Homo sapiens: one gene and its partners. The protein of the gene in region 1 interacts with the protein of each later gene in a pairwise test. Each region holds a gene or a part of one and is shown in the gene's direction. Other genes may lie near its edges.

Region 1 (7,039 bases):
TAGGTTAATTAATTGGAGAGAGGGGATGGGAAATGCCCTTGGGAGCTCTGTATCCTGCCGATGTATCACACACGCACACCCTGCGCACGCACACTGGCTTTCCACTCACTCCTTAGAGGCATCAGAGTCTTGCCTGAAATGGGTCTCTAGCTTTGTCCCACTCAGACACCGACTTTAGGTTTGAACTCGTTGTGCTGGCATGAGGTGGCACTGGTGGTGGGGAGGGTGGGAGAGCATGCCGAGATGCTCCTGATCAGACTTGTCCCCAGGCTGCGGGGCTGGCAGAGGTATGACCAGCATGTTCTGTTCCTCCCTTCTCCCTGGAGATCAGATGTTCCCTTCCCCCAGCTTTAATCAGAAGCGGTTGATTATACCGTGTTGAGTAGGGCAGACCTTGAATGGGGATATGAAAATCAAGCCAATCAATCAACATTAGCAGTAATGATACAAGCTGGTCCTGTCGCTTCCTGAGTTGTCTCAACGTTATTTTAAACTGCCTCTTTGAAAAATCTTTCTTACAGAAAGGAAGAGGTTTTATCAGAATGTCAGCATCACACAGGGTGAAGGTGAGTGTCTGAAATTTTGACTGCCTCTTTTTTTTTTTTTTTTTGTGAATGGTTGGGAACATTTTTCATCTTCAGCTGGTTTCATGGTGCGATTATCCTTCCTGCTTTTTGTGAGATATATTTCTGTAAGGGACTCAGAGTTGGCTTTGTCTGCACCAATTCAAGTGGCTAAATATAGGAATGGTCACTTGATTCCACTTAACAAATCCCTGAGAGTTTTTCATTTGATCTTTCAAGGTGGCTTTGAGATAAACCTGGACCACAGGAAGCTGAAAACTCCCCAAGCCAAGCTCTTTACCGTCCCCAGCGAGGCCCTGGCCATTGCAGTGGCTACTGAGTGGGATTCCCAGCAGGATACCATCAAGTACTACACCATGCACCTGGTAACAAGTTCACAGTGTGAACCTGGACCCTGAGACCCACCCAGGGCTTCGTAGGGTAGACCCTTTACCAAATTCCGACAAGGCCCTGGGGGCTGGTCCTTTGCCTGTCTGGCCCCCAGGGATTCACCTCCTCTCAAGTCACTAACGTGCTAAACTCTTTCCTTGTCTGGCCCGGCTACTTGCAGCTCTCTCTCCTAGGAACACTGTGCTGGATGGCTGGTTTCTCCTTTGGTTTCAGGACAGATGTCACCTTCATTGACTGCCCAGCTCTCTTATTTTCTATGACAGCAGCTGGCCATTTGTTTTGTCAGCACTTAGGCAATTTATAATTGTTTTATGTTTGCACATTTATTGTCTGTCTCTTCCACTGCCTGGTAAGCAACAGAAGGGCAGGAGCCATGTCTGTTTTACTCATCAGTGTCTGGACAGCCACTAGCAGGTAATTTAGTTGGTACTCAGTAAATATTAGTTGAATATAAGATCCACTGGAGGCAGATGGGTGAGGTGAGGAAGACTCCCTATAGAACCAGCCCCCTCGTCCACACCAAAGTGGCTCGCCTAGGCACCAAGGCTGCCTGGGGAAGGAAGGGCCCAGCTACACTCTTAGGTCCAGCCTCTGCAGCTTCTAAACTGTAACCTTGGGCAGGTTGCTACCCCTTTCGCAGCCCCATATTCCCCACCGATTAAAGATGAGTGATAATAGTACCCACCTCACGGAGCTGTGGTCAGGATGAGATGAGATGATGCAAGAAAGCCCTTGGCATGGTCCCCAGCACTGACTGGGCACTCAGTCAATACAGGAGTCAGCTGCTATCATCCCAGCCGCTGCTGTGCTCAACCTTTGCAAACCCAGGTGGGCCTCCTCCCAACATCACAGCCTGCTGAGGTGGTTGGCCTGGTCCTTGACAACCTAGTGAAATTAGGGTGATTAGGGCTACAAACGAATAGGGTAACCTAAGCAGCCTATTATTGACAAGGTAAGTCTGGAAAAAAAAAGATCTTTTTTTTTTTTTTAAACAGTCTAACTCTGTTGCCCAGGCTGCAGTGCAATGGCATAATCTCGGCTCACTGCAACCTCTGCCTCCTGGGTTCAAGCGATTCTCCCGTCTCAGCCTCCCAAGCAGCTGGGATTACAGACGTCCACCACCATGCCAGGCTAATTTTTGTATTTTTAGTAGAGATGGGGTTTTACCATGTTGGCCAGGCTGGTCTTGAACTCCTGACCTCAGGTGATCTGCCCACCTCAGCCTCCCAAAGTGCTGAGATTACAGGCGTGAGCCACCACACTTGGCCGAAAAAAATAATCTTGATCCCGATTTGCATGGGCTATTTCCCTACTTTCTAAGGTGTAAGGGAGGCAGCTGGTAAAGGTTTCCAGTCAGATTTGAGCTCCATCACTAATACATGTCTTATTAACTGTATTTGACAATGTACTTAACCTGTCTGGGCCTCAGTTTTCACATCCCAGATGGACATAATAATAGTACCTACTCCAAAAGGTTGTTGTGAGGATTAAATTAAATACACTAGAGCCTGGTAATAAAAGGCATGTGACCATGGGGGAGGTTCACTAATCCTGGGGCTGCTGCAAGCTTCCCTCGAGTCCTGTGAGCGTCAACACAAAGCATTTGGCATGGAGCCTGGTTGTGGCACACTCTCAGTAGCTGTGCTGCTGCTCCGGTAATGCAGACGCCTCTGGTGGAGGGCTGTGCTGTGGTGCTGTCTGCTATGTGTCAGATGTGGTGTCCTCAGGAAAGCAGGGCTTTTGCCTGAGCCCCGCAGGCAGTGACAGGGTGGTTTTTGCCTTTGATTCAGACCACATTGTGCAACACATCATTGGACAACCCAACCCAGAGAAACAAGGATCAGCTGATCCGGGCAGCCGTGAAGTTTCTGGACACCGACACCATCTGGTAATGGACATTTAGATGGGCATTCCCCTTGGATTGAGGCTATTTTTCCTGATTTGCCCAGATGGTTATCAGTGGAAGAAGAAACCCTCTCCATTTATTGCAAGGACAAGGAAGGTGGCCCACTTGACTTTGGCACTTGGCTGCTCTGTAGCCCCTTAGGAGGAGGACTCCTCGGGCTACAATGGTGTCAGAACATGGCCACCCCTCTTCTCTAGCCCAGAAGCTGCTCCTTAGGCTGGGAGGGTGGTTATGCAGCTCTTGCAGGTGCCGTGACCACAGGCCCCTTAGGCCTAGGGGGGCCTGTGACCTTAAACTTCTGCCCACCGACACTTTCTCAGGTAAAGCATCCTTGGCACTATGGATGCTGATAACTAGGAGTGTCCTTCTCCAGTTCTGAATTCTCCTCTGTGTCTATGTTTCTTGGCTAATTGTTCAGTGATGCCAAAGGAAAGTTGAGAAACAATGGAAATGATTGAGCAGCACCGTGCCTGCTAGCCCAAGTGCTCTAGGATCCTGAGTCATCTCACGATGACACAGGAAGTCAGCACTGATGGCTGGAGGCGTGCTTTCGAAGGGGGTGACCCATAGCTAGTGGGAACGCCCACTCCATTTATATTAGGGTTCACTTGATTGCAGGGAGCAGAAACCCATTCAACCTAGCTCAGACAAAAAGGGGATTCTTGAAAACTATACAGGGATCCTGACAGGAAATGAAGGACAGTTGGGTCACCAGGAAAGGTAGCTGGAAGATCCAATGTCAGAGCTCCTCCCTGTGCCCTACTAGGGTGAGAGGAAGGTGAGGGAGGAAAGGCTGGTTGTCCATCTGCCCCTCCCAGCACCCCAGCTTTTCCTGCATAACTCATGACCTCTCTTCCCCACTTTGCTTACACAAGACAGTGGATTTCCATAGTGCCCACTTGGATTCCCATCCCATGAGGCCCTGCAGCTCAGCTCCTCTCAACTGGCTCATGTCTGTGTCTCTTGGTCAAACAAATGGCACAGCCTGACCTCTAGCTTGGTCCCATCAGGTCTGGCATCTGTGCCAGCAGCTGCATCTGTAGCCAGGAGGTGGGTGGACTTATGAGGTATAAACAGGCTATTTGGTCTGTGACCAGGGGCACAGTCTCTTGGAGGGGGTGAGGGTAGAGATGCAAAGACTGAGCATCTGGCACAGCATTCCCATTCAGCATCTGGGTCAAGCGGGTGTGGACCCAGGGTTGCAGTTAGTAGATTGGATCTGCTTTAGGATGGCAGTAACAGTGTGGCAAGCTTGGACCTGTCAAATATTTGGGGGCATTTAGGGTAGTGGTTCTCAAACTCAAGCTTACACTAGAATCCCCTAGAGGGCTTGTTAAAACAGATTGCTGGGCCCCCCTCCAGAGGTTCTGATTTCTGTAGGCATGCAACCTGAGAATGTGTATTTCTAACAAGTTCCCAGGCGATGCTGGTGCCAGGGCCACACTTTGAGAACCACTGCTTTAGGGGAAAAGACTTGTGGGGCTGGGATGGTGGTGGTGAAGTTTTTGCTGTTGTCCTTTGTGTTTTTCCTTTTCTATCACTGAATGAAGGAATTGTACTTTTTTATTAATGAAGGTTATTTTTACAATGAATTAGCTACAGGGTGGAGGAGCCCGAGACATTAGTGGAACTTCAAAGGAATGAGTGGGATCCAATCATCGAATGGGCTGAGAAAAGGTAAGATGTACAGCCCTGCAGAAAGCACTGACTGGGCACCTGCGTTTGGTGGAGTGTAGGGGTCAGGGGGTCACGCTGGAAAACTAGTGCCCTTAGCTAGTCAGCTTTCTGATTTCAGAGCACTCGTGGGATTTGGCTCCCCTCATATGATCAGGGATAGGGTCATCCTGGGAAAAAAGCACCTCAAATTTAATTTCAGCCACTAGGTACAGCACACCTGCTGTAGCGGTTCATGAAGTGTAGGGGCAGCTCTGTGTCCTTGGAGAAGCAGTGGAGTTCCCAGGCCACCTTCTGCCAGCGGGTCAGAGCAGCAGTGTCGGTTTGAATCCCAGCTCTGCTGAAGACTCAGCTGTGTGACTTGGCTAATGAGTTGATCTCTCTGAGCTTCAATTTTCTTGTCTATAAATGGGGCTAATAATCCCTACCTCTCAGGGTTTGAGGAGGAATAAATGAATTGATGCATGTAAAGGCTTAGCATCCTGCTTATTAGCACACAGTAAATGTTCAAATTTTGGCAGTGATTTTAATCTTTGTCACAATTGCTGTACTATTAAATAAAATAACAGAACAACATATACGATATGTATGCACTTGGAGAAAAGTCTGGATAGCTTCCTGCAAAATTACGGGTAACATCCAATGGATATGTAGCTTCCAGGAATTGATATGAAATATTTTTCTTTAATAGGAAGACTCTTGAGTGCAAAGTTGAATGGATTATTGATGTGGTGGCAAAATAAATTCAATTTCATTTGATCCCAAGGGAAATTTGGAAGGGCTGGCTTTCATGGTACTACCTTGACTGTGGTATTTTCTAAGCTTGCAAGGCACATTTCTTGGTATAGCAGTTTTCCACAAAAGTGATGTTACCAATCAGTTCACTGATTTGCCACATGCTGCCCGATGCTCACAATGTGGCAGGTGTCCTTGGGTCTTAAAAGAGAAGGCAAAGGCAGTGCTCTAAAGACCAGACTACAATACTATGTGGGAATGTGACAAAACAGTGTCATTTCAGAATCTAATGAAATGTAATAATAATTTAGGTGCCTAGAGATCTTTGCTATAGTATAAAATCATCAGATTCTTGTGGCAGGAAATACCTCATCCTTAAGAGTTTATAGAAAAACTTAGCCATTTCTTACAGTCCATTTGTACTATTAGGAATTTCAGCAAGGATTTTTTATTTTTTCTTTCTTGAGATGGAGTCTCGCTCTGTCGCCCAGGCTGGAGTGCAGTGATGCGATCTTGGCTCACTGTAACCTCCACCTCTTGGGTTTAAACGATTCTCGTGCCTCAGCCTCTCAAGTAGCTGGGATTACAGGCGCCCACCACGCCCAGCTAATTTTTGTGTTTTTAGTAGAGATGGGGTTTCACCATGTTGGCCAGGCTGGTCTCGAACTCCTGACCTCAAGTGATTGCCCACCTCATTCTCCTGAAGTGCTGGGATTATAGGTGTGAGCCACTGCACCCAGCAGGATTTTTTTTTTTTTTTTTTTGAAAGGAGTCTCGCTCTGTCACCCAGGCTGGAGTGCAGTGGCGTGATCTCAGCTCACTGCAAGCTCCGCCTCCCAGGTTTTATGCCATTTTCCTGCCTCAGCCTCCCAAGTAGCTGGGACTACAGGCATGCACCATCTACACCCGGCTAATTTTTTTTGTATTTTTAGTAGAGACGGCGTCTCACCGTGTTAGCCAGGATGGTCTCAATCTCCTGACCTCGTGATCCGCCCGCCTCGGCCTCCCAAAGTGCTGGGATTACAGGCATGAGCCACCGCGCCCGGCCCCAGCCGGATTTTTTTAAGCAACAGAAAAAAATCAGTGATATATGGAAGAAAATTACAAAAATTATTTTTATCCCCCATTGTGTTTTTCTGTTTTATTTAGTTATGATTATTCTTGAAAATGTATCTTCTCAGCCAGGCGCAGAGGTCAGGAGGCGGAGGTCGCAGTGAGCCGAGATCATGCCACTGCACTTCAGCCTGGGGTAGAAAGCAAGAAAGACTTCATCTCAAAAAAAAAAAAAAAAAAAAAAGTTTGAAAAAATGACTGCTGACTGGTCATGGTGGCTCATGGCTGTAATCCCAACACTTTGGGAGGCTGAGGTTGGCAGATCGCGTGAGTCCAGGCGTTTGAGACCAGCTCGAGCAACATGGTGAAACTCTGTCTCTACAAAAAAAATTAGCTAGGTGTGGTGGCACATGCCTGTAGTCCCAGCTACTTGGGAGACTGAGGTGGGAGGATCGCTTGAGCCTAGGAGGTCAAGGCTGCAGTGAGTCAAGATCATGCCAGCGCACTCCAGCTTGAGTGACAGAGCGAGACCCTGTCTCAATAAAAAAGAAAACCTCCATGATATATGACATAAACATTATTTTAAGGAAAACCATTTTAAATATTGTTTTTAACTTTTATATGTCCTCAAATGTGAAAAACTTTAAAGAGATGTAAAAGGCAGATGGCCTTTTGATGGAGATTCCAGGTGAATGAA
Region 2 (7,039 bases), about 22 Mb from region 1:
ATTTTTGTTGGAAGAAGACCTCTAATTCAGCCTGAAGCTGGTATCATGAATCATTCAAAGGCGTGGTGTGATTTTGACTAGAAGCTGGACCAGATGCTCCGTGCAGGTTTGGAAGCAGTTACACTTTTGTGGTTTGACTAACCTTTTTTATGAGTGTGTTACTAAAGAAACGTGAGCTGTTGGCTTTTCAATTACTGTAGTTTACCCTTTCTGGGTTTCATACACATTGAGTCATCGTGTCTACAGGTGACTGATAATCATCTGCACTGCTCAAGTTACCGTAACTCAGAGACGAGGGGATCTGATGATTGCAAGTTGCATGCACGTGAACATCTGAGGCTGCCCCATCTCCTTAACAATGAACAATGGTCTGTGTTAACTACAGAATTCAGTCACATATTTCCACTCATCCAGGGGTTTATCTTCCTCTTAATGTTTTGCCTTTTACAATTTTAGCACTCAGCTGTTTTCTGACATATGCTGCAGGTGGTATAGATTGTGAAATTGTAGGCCTTGTTAAGTAAAGCAAACTCTTAGGAGAAAGGATAAAATCAGAGTTTGTGATGTGCCTACCCCACCCAGAAACCTTCTGGAGCCTCTCTGTTGGGTGAAAAGAGAAAAAGTTTCTCAAGGACCCCTGGTATTTAGGGAGATGAATAGAGGTGGCCACAGTGGAAAATAACCAATAACCTTAAAAAGGCCAAGAAACCGAAGTTCATCATTTCTGTGTCACATTCTAGGGAATGAATGTCTGTGACCTTAGCTGGCTCTCATGTTCTCAGTCTTCCAGATGGCCTTGACCAAAGATATATCCAATCTGGAAACTGAAAATAAAAAACATTGATTACTTTGGCCAAGGTCTACTCTGCTGTTGCTTCTCATTGAGTTTCCAAGACAGGGTATTTTCGTTTGCATATTTTTTTTCTCTCTCAGGTATTTCTCTGGAAACTATCAGGTTGGCCTTAAGGTCAGCTGCTTGTGGGGATGCAAAGACAAATTCATCTCATGGGAATAGATCTTTTAGCTGGTTCTTCTGGCTCCAATTTCTCACTGTTCTGGTCTGCCTTACACATTGCTGTTACGTTAACCACAAACCTGTCTTTCTCAAGGGCAGGTAGCCTTGGCTCTTGGTTCGGATTCACACCCTACAGTGGGCCATTCGGAATGCCCACCATTCGGTCCTACCATGCATTATCTTTTTTCAGTGTTTCCCCAAATGTAGGATGCAAATTGCCAGCAAGCACATGGAGCATTTAAAAACCTGGGTCCACACAGCAGGATAATTATTTTCTTTCCAGTTCTCTTTCAGTCTCCTGGATCATACTAAGGAGAAAAATTTAGACTTAATTTGATGCCAGTTGTCTTTAACACTAATCTCACACTTGGTAATCTCTGTTTTTAACAAAGGGGGAAGGGATCTTAGTCTCCAAGTACTCACAGTAGTATCCGATCAAAATTTAATGAAATGCTCTGTTTCATTGTCTTTATTTTTCATAGTTACCTTCTACTTGTGGAAAGTGATTCTGGTTTTCCGTTTATGTTAGTGATATAAAGTTTCCTTAAAAACCACATTTATTTTAGAAAAAGAAAAAAAGAAAGAAAATGTGAACCAAATCAAACAGAGGAAAAAAACCCAAGCATTTACCAAGTGTTTTCCATGTGGCAGGCCCTGTTCTAAGTGCTTTCCAGTGACCCTGTGAGGTACATACAATTATCTTCACTTTACATGAGGACACGGAACATAGGTTAAGTGACTTGCCCAAGGTCACAAAACTGGTGACCAATGGAGCCAGCATCAAACCCAGCCCATCTGACACCAGAGTTTATTCTCTCAACCACCACACTGCCCTGGTGTGTGGATATTGCAGAATGTGAAGGAAGAGTGAAGCCTGAGAAATACTGTATTTCATACTTCTTGATCGCGTTTCAGCCAGACTCGCTTTCTGCACACGTCCCGTGTAGTCCCACCTCTCTGCCTTCATTCCTGCACTCCCCCTCAACTAGGATGTCCTCTCCCGCTTCTCTGAAAATCTAAATTCTTCCAGTTCAAGACCCTTCTCAAAATTTAGATTTTCCAAGAATGCTTTCCCTTCCCCAAGTACTTCTGAAGTTTCTGCATTCCCTTAATGCCTAAATATACAATTTATACCAAATTGTCTCACCGATGCCTGTATGTTACCTTATTATTCTTTTTAAAGAACACGTTACTTCCCTGCCTAAATGCCTCAAATGTGGGCATTTAGAATAAAAGCAAAGACCTCCATAGAGCAAAGCAGTCCTTTTACAACTTTTTTTTTTGAGACAAGGTCTTACTCTGCCACCCAGGCTGGAGTGCAGTGGTGCCATCTCAGCTCACTACAATCTCTGCCTCCCAGGCTCAGGTGATCCTCCCACCTCAGCCTCCTGAGTAGCTGGGACTACAGATGCCTGGCTAATTTTTGTATTTTTTTGTAGAGACAAGGTTCCTCCATGTTGCCCGGGCTGGTCTCGAACTCCTGGGCTCAAGTGATCCTCCCTCCTCAGCCTCCCAAAGTGCTAGGATTACAGGCCTGAGCCACCGCGCCCGGCCAACTTTTAACTTATACTTTTTCTCGAGTTCTATATATATATAGGTCTTATTTCTCATCCACTAGGTTGGAGACACCTCAAGAACAGGAACTGGTTCTTCCAATCCTTTTGTTTTCTCATGGCATTTTTTCTTCTTCTTCTTTATTTTCATTGCTGAACCCTTTACTGTAGGGCAGTGACAAATTTTGGAATCTCAACATGACTAGGAAACATTATAGAAGGATATGGTTTAGCAAATCCCTCCAGGATCCAAGCTGACAGAATGGAGAGGCTCAACAGTGACCTCAGCCTCACCTCCAGCACTCGGCTCCACTTCCTCGCTTTCTCTCCCCTCTCCCCACCACTCACCACTGAGCACATCTGCCCTCACTGCAGTCCCCATCCCTGCCTTCCCTGTGACCAGAGAGCCTCTGTTTTCTAACACACAACACCCACACACTCTGAAGGTGGCTAAACTCTGTTTTCAAAACTTCTCAGCAGTTTGACATGAGAAGTAGGAGAGGGTGACCACAAGTATATTTTTTCAGTTAAGTGTGAGATAGGCCCTAATGATCACATGTGTATCAGAGATACACTTGCCAAGCAAAGGAAGAGAAACACACGTTAGGAAAGGGACAAAGACCATGATCTCTTCTCAAGAAAACTTTTCTCAAACTTTCTACATTTGAAGCTCTTTCACTTCAGTCTCAGTCAGCCAGGACGGGTGAGTTTGGGGAGTAGCCAGTTGGAGTCTGGGGGGCTATTTTCTCTATCTCTGTAGCTATTTAAAAAGCTGCCGAGGTGAGGCACCGAGTGTCCCCACTCTTTGCAGCACTTCTGTCCCCCTGGCTACCTAATATTGCAAGCAGAAAATAACAAGCAAAAGCAAAATAAGAGTTGGGAGCCGACTGTGTCTTAAGAGATCATGAACTATAGCAGAAGTCCCAGGCTCCTGTGGGCTGGTGGCTCCCTTGTCCCTCTAGCCCCATCCTAGTGTCCTGCTTCTTTCCCTCCTTTCTTGAGGGCTCTCCTCTAACATGCACAGTGGGCATACCTTACCATGTGGCCTCAACTGAACCACATCTCTGCCCCTCTCTTCTGCCTGCTGGCTTTATTTTAACCATCCAAACACGTTGCTGCCGACCAGTGTCCCCTGAGACAGCACCATGGGAAACCATTCTGCCAGGCTTGGTCTTCTTGAGCAGCAGGCAACTTAACTCTCCTCCCTTTTTGAGGTCTCTAGAAAATATTTACAAACTCTCTGCCTTGGCAGTGTTCCCTTTGTAACCCTTTCTGTCACTTGTTCCAGGTGAGAAGCGCCACTGCTTTGATGTCAACTATAATTCAAGTTACATGTATGAGAAAGAGAGTGAGCTCATACAGACCCGCATGATGGACCAAGCCATCAATAACGCCATCAGCTATCTTGGCGCCGAAGCCCTGCGCCCCTTGGTCCAGACACCGCCTGCTCCCACCTCGGAGATGGTTCCAGTTATCAGCAGCATGTATCCCATAGCCCTCACCCGGGCTGAGATGTCAAACGGTGCCCCTCAAGAGCTGGAAAAGAAAAGCATCCACCTTCCAGAGAAGAGCGTGCCTTCTGAGAGAGGCCTCTCTCCCAACAATAGTGGCCACGACTCCACGGACACTGACAGCAACCATGAAGAACGCCAGAATCACATCTATCAGCAAAATCACATGGTCCTGTCTCGGGCCCGCAATGGGATGCCACTTCTGAAGGAGGTTCCCCGCTCTTACGAACTCCTCAAGCCCCCGCCCATCTGCCCAAGAGACTCCGTCAAAGTGATCAACAAGGAAGGGGAGGTGATGGATGTGTATCGGTGTGACCACTGCCGCGTCCTCTTCCTGGACTATGTGATGTTCACGATTCACATGGGCTGCCACGGCTTCCGTGACCCTTTCGAGTGTAACATGTGTGGATATCGAAGCCATGATCGGTATGAGTTCTCGTCTCACATAGCCAGAGGAGAACACAGAGCCCTGCTGAAGTGAATATCTGGTCTCAGGGATTGCTCCTATGTATTCAGCATCGTTTCTAAAAACCAATGACCTCGCCTAACAGATTGCTCTCAAAACATACTCAGTTCCAAACTTCTTTTCATACCATTTTTAGCTGTGTTCACAGGGGTAGCCAGGGAAACACTGTCTTCCTTCAGAAATTATTCGCAGGTCTAGCATATTATTACTTTTGTGAAACCTTTGTTTTCCCATCAGGGACTTGAATTTTATGGAATTTAAAAGCCAAAAAGGTATTTGGTCATTATCTTCTACAGCAGTGGAATGAGTGGTCCCGGAGATGTGCTATATGAAACATTCTTTCTGAGATATATCAACCACACGTGGAAAAGCCTTTCAGTCATACATGCAAATCCACAAAGAGGAAGAGCTGACCAGCTGACCTTGCTGGGAAGCCTCACCCTTCTGCCCTTCACAGGCTGAAGGGTTAAGATCTAATCTCCCTAATCTAAATGACAGTCTAAGAGTAAGTAAAAGAACAGCCATAAAATAAGTATCTGTTACGAGTAACTGAAGACCCCATTCTCCAAGCATCAGATCCATTTCCTATCACAACATTTTTAAAAAATGTCATCTGATGGCACTTCTGCTTCTGTCCTTTACCTTCCCATCTCCAGTGAAAAGCTGAGCTGCTTTGGGCTAAACCAGTTGTCTATAGAAGAAAATCTATGCCAGAAGAACTCATGGTTTTAAATATAGACCATCATCGAAACTCCAGAAATTTATCCACTGTGGATGATGACATCGCTTTCCTTTGGTCAAGGTTGGCAGAGCAAGGGTATAAAGGGGGAAATTGTTTGGCAGCACCAACAGAAAACAAACAAACAAAAAACAGCTACCTAAAACTTCTTGAAAGAGTTCATGGAGAATTGGTGATACAGACCCAAAGCAAATTTGCCAATGATATTTTCCACAAAAAAAGTCCAAAAAGTATGGCTCAGCCTCCCCCTCCCCACAGGAGAGGAATTGGAGATAGATGGCATGTGTGTTTAGATCGGAGTTGAGCTCCGGAATGGGGTGAGGAGGGACACCTCTATTGAGAGGTTCTCCTTGATCAGGCAGGCTTCGGCCCTTTTTTTCCCATTTAAATGGAACTGCTGTATTCCATGAAAATTCCTGAAAGTCTGATCACGGTTCTGCAGATGTATAAGTCATCCTTGTCACTCATAATATGTACATACTATCAGGAGGAGTGCTGTTATCATGGTAAAATTAGCACTGGAATAGGAGGTCACAAAATGCTGGCTAATTAGCTATGTGACTTTGAGAAATCGTTTAACTTTTTTTTTTTTTTTTTTTTTGAGACAGGATCTCACTCTGTTGCCCAGGCTGGAGTGCAGTGGTGCAATCATGGCTCAGTGCAGCCTCGACCTCCCCAGGCTCAGGTGATCCTCCCACCTCAGCCTCTTGAGTACTGGGACAACAAGTGCACACCACCATGTCTGGCTACATTTTGTTCTTTTTGTAGAGATAGGGGTCTCACTATGTTGCCCATGCTGGTCTTGAACTCCTGGGCTCAAGCAATCAGCCCGCCTCAGCCTCCTAAAGTGCTGGGATTACAGGTGTGAGCCACCACACCCAGCCTTATTTAACTCTTAAAACTCAGTTTCCGGCCAGGCTCGGTGGCTCACACCTGTAATCCCAACACTTTGGGAAGCCGAGGCAGGCGCATCATTTGAGGTCAGGAGTTCGAGACCAGCCTGACCCACATGGTGAAACCCTGTCTCTACTAAAAATACAAAAATTAGCTGGGCAGTAGTGGCACATGCCTGTAATCCCAGCTACTCCGGAGGCTGAGGCAGAAAAATCGCTTAAGCCTGGGAGGTTGAGGTTGCGGTGAGTGGAGATCACACTACTGCACTCCAGTCTGGGCGACAGAGTGAGACCCTGTCTCAAACAAAACAAAACAAAAACAAACAAACAAAAACAAAAAAAACTCAGTTTCCTCATCCATAAAATAGGAATTAGATTTCAATGTTCTCTTAGGTCCCTTCTAGCTTTAATTCATATGTGATTATGCAGTAACCACAAGGTATTTTTTAAACCTCCTAATGTATGGATATTAAGCAGAAGAGTATTTATATGAATACATGTTTCACATTCCTTTGGTATGAAAATGGTGTGTTAAGTTTTTCCTTTAACCACTGAGTTGTGAATGTGAAGAAGGTGGTGGAGAGGAACAAAAAACAGAAAGGTATTTTGATCTTGCCACAAAGCATACACACAAATTGGCACATGCAGCTGTTTGCCAAAGCCTTCTTTTTTTTTTTACTTTTTAAGAAATTATGTTAGGGAAAATAAATTCTGCTTCCAGGGACAACTTCATGGAGCCTATTTACAAATTAAGAGTCAGCTTAATTTGTAACATTTCTACCAGAGCCAAGAATCCCAAATTCCTGGTAGATTAGTGTTTTATTTCTAAGGGGCTTATGCATTCGGCTCCAACTCAACTCGT
Region 3 (3,141 bases), on another chromosome or scaffold:
ACTGCTATTATTACTACTTTAATCTGTGAAGGATGCTACTGATGTAATTTTCTATAGGAGCATTGCAGAAGCGGCATCTAGTCTATGTTACACAGAATACAGAGTTGTAAAAACAGAGATGAATCATGTGGTTAGAGGTTGCTATAATAGAAACAATAGGTTGACCACGCTTTAGACATATTACACCAAAATAGCTCTATGCTACCCAATGTGCAGTTCGCGGTTAATCATATGTGGCTATTTCAATTAGTAAAGACGAAGTAAAGTTGAAAAATTCCGTTCCCTAGGTTGCATTAGCCACATTTTAAGTGCTCAATGGCTCCATGTGGCCATTGATTTCCAAGATGGACAGCGTGGGTAATGAATATTCCCATTATTGCAGCAAGTCCTGTTGGAAAGCACTGGTATAGATTATGTTTTCAGTCACTGAGTCATTTACGCTTTTTACAGTAAAGCCGTAAAAGGAGTAGAGGCTGTCCTACAGCTACTTCTAAGCCTCTCAAAAGGAATAAAACATTGAGTCTACCAGATTAGAGCAACTAATACCTCCAAAGTGTGTGTCAATAGAATGAAAATAATGGGCATAGAAAAACACCACTGAGCTGGGCGTGGTGGCTCACACCTGTAATCCCAGCACTTTGAGAGGCCAAGGTGGGTGGATCAACCTGAGGTCAGGAGTTTGAAACCAGCCTGGCCGACATGGAGAAACACCATCTCTACTAAAAATAGAAAAATTAGCTGGGCATCATAGTGCACCTGTAATTCCAGCTACTTGGGAGGCTGAGGCACTAGAATCGCTTGAACCTGGGAGGTGGAGGTTGCAGTGAGCCAAGATTGTGCCACTGCACTCCAACCTGGGTGATGGAGTGAGATTCTGTCTCAAAACAAACAAACAAACAAACAAATAAAACAAACCTACAAACCATCTCAAAAAGTTTAAATTAAAAAGAAGAAGAAGAAGAAGAAAACCAGTAAGGCACTGACTTATGCAAAGACACTGGCCGATATTAGCTTCTGGTCGATATTAGCTTCTCTTTCTGTAATGAGGTTTGTCTTGAAGTATGATCCTAGGACCCACATGCATCAGAATTGCTTGTTTAAATGCAGGCTCCTGGGTCTCATGTCAGATTTATTGGGTCACACTCTCTTGGGTGGGGTTGGTAATCTGCTTTTTTTTTTTTTTTTTTTTTTAAAGAGAGGGTCTTGCTCTGTTACCCAGGCTGGAGTGCAGTGGTGCCATCATAACTCACTGCAGCCTTGACCTTCTGGCTCAAGTTATCCTCCCACCTCAGCTTTCCAAATAGCTGGGACCACAGGTACATGCTACCATGCCTAGGTAATTTTTTTACTTTTTGTAGAGGTGAGGTATTGCTATGTTGCCCAGGCTGGCAGTCTGCTTTTTTTTTTTTTTTTTTTTTTTTTTTGGAGACAGAGTCTCACTCTGTCACCCAGGCTGGAGTACAGTGGTGCAATAACGGCTTACTGCAACCTCCGCCTCCTGGGTTCAAGAAATTCTCCCATCTCAGCCTCCTGAGAAGCTGGGATTAAAGGTGCACGATAGCATGCCTGACTAATTTTTGTATTTTTAGTAGAGATGGGGTTTCACCATGTTGGCCAGGCTGGTCTCGAACTCCTGACCTCAGGTGATCCACCTGCCTTGGCCTCCCAAAGTGCTGGGATTACAGGTGTGAACCACTGCGCCCAGCCTGCAATCTGCTTTTTTACAAACTGGACCTCCAGATAATCTAGCCATTGAAGAACCACTGTTCTAACATCCAGTGCTTCTCAAAACTAGCCAGAAGGACACATCAGTGGAGTCCTTTCGGATTAAGGCTACTGATGATGACCAGGAGTGCTCTATGGCCTTAAAACCCAAGGTTCGTCCATAAGGATGAGCAACAGTGAAATTTACCCCTTAGTTTAATTGGTTGTCCAGCTCGTGGAAGTTGACTTTTTCTTGTGTTCTGTATTTCTGTTCTCTGCAGAGGTTCACAGCCTCCAGCATACTCCGCACACACATCAGGCAGCACTCCGGGGAGAAGCCCTTCAAATGCAAGTACTGTGGTAAATCTTTTGCATCCCATGCTGCCCATGACAGCCATGTCCGGCGTTCACACAAGGAGGATGATGGCTGCTCATGCAGCATCTGTGGGAAAATCTTCTCAGATCAAGAAACATTCTACTCCCACATGAAGTTTCATGAAGACTACTAGCCCTGCCAGGCACAATGACTCACGCCTGTAATCCCAGCACTTTGGGAGGCAGAGGTGGGTGGATCACTCAAGTCCAGGAGTTCGAGACCAGCCTGGGCAACATGGTGAAATCCTGTCTCTACCAAAAAAATACAAAAATCAGCTGGGGGTGGTGGCACATGCCTGTGGTTCCAGCCACTCAGGAGGTCGAGGTGGCAGGATGGTTTGAGCACAGGAGACGGAGGTTGCTGTGAGCTGAGATCGCCCCACTGCTTTTCAACCTGGGTGACAGAACCAGACCCTGTCTCAAAACAAAACAAAACAAAAAAAATGAGTAGCCCTCAAGAGTGTGGAGACAATGTAAAAACAAGAGATTCGGATTCTCTCTATTTCCTTTTATGGGTTATAGAAGTCCCTGCAGTTGGCTGTGTGTGGTGGCTCACGCCTGTTATTCCAACACTTTGGGAGGCCCAGATGGGCGGATCAGCTGAGGTCAGGAGTTCAAGACCATGCTGGCCAACATGGTGAAACCCCGTCTCTACTAAAAATGCAAAAATTAGCCTGGTGTGGTGGCACATGCCTGTAATACCAGCTACTTGGGAGGGGAATTGCTTGAACCCAGAGGCGGAGGTTGCAATGATCTGAGAAAAAGGTAGCTTTTTCTCTACTATTTGCCTTGGGCCCCCAATTATACAATGCGGTCATCACGTGTTACATTTCTTTATAGAAAAGATTCTTATACAGAGAGGCAGATCCCAACATGTTACCCAGGCTGGTCTCAAACTCCTGGGCTCAACTGATCCTCTGGCCTCAGCCTCCCAAAGTGCTGGGATTATAGGTGTGAGCCACTGCATCAGGCCTAGAACAAATCCTCTAAAAATTCGCTTATCATACTGTGCACTTGGCAGAAACAAAAACAAACAAAAACCCCACTAAATAAATAAATATT

What was found.
Region 2: the proteins of ATPAF2 (region 1) and IKZF3 interact in binary tests that used the Homo sapiens proteins (3 or more experiments, as listed by UniProt).
Region 3: the proteins of ATPAF2 (region 1) and PRDM14 interact in binary tests that used the Homo sapiens proteins (3 or more experiments, as listed by UniProt).

Annotation. Positions count from the first base shown.
Region 1 is NC_000017.11:18,022,142-18,029,180, reverse strand, and holds part of ATPAF2 (ATP synthase mitochondrial F1 complex assembly factor 2), read left to right. Parts: intron 1-521; coding exon 522-566; intron 567-803; coding exon 804-949; intron 950-2,764; coding exon 2,765-2,862; intron 2,863-4,476; coding exon 4,477-4,557; intron 4,558-7,039. UniProt on the Homo sapiens protein: Plays a role in the assembly of the F1 component of the mitochondrial ATP synthase (ATPase).
Region 2 is NC_000017.11:39,763,311-39,770,349, reverse strand, and holds part of IKZF3 (zinc finger protein Aiolos), read left to right. Parts: intron 1-3,856; coding exon 3,857-4,560; 3' UTR 4,561-7,039. UniProt on the Homo sapiens protein: Transcription factor that plays an important role in the regulation of lymphocyte differentiation. Plays an essential role in regulation of B-cell differentiation, proliferation and maturation to an effector state.
Region 3 is NC_000008.11:70,051,149-70,054,289, reverse strand, and holds the end of PRDM14 (PR domain zinc finger protein 14), read left to right. Parts: intron 1-1,985; coding exon 1,986-2,213; 3' UTR 2,214-2,639; downstream 2,640-3,141. UniProt on the Homo sapiens protein: Transcription factor that has both positive and negative roles on transcription. Required for the maintenance of embryonic stem cell identity and the reacquisition of pluripotency in somatic cells.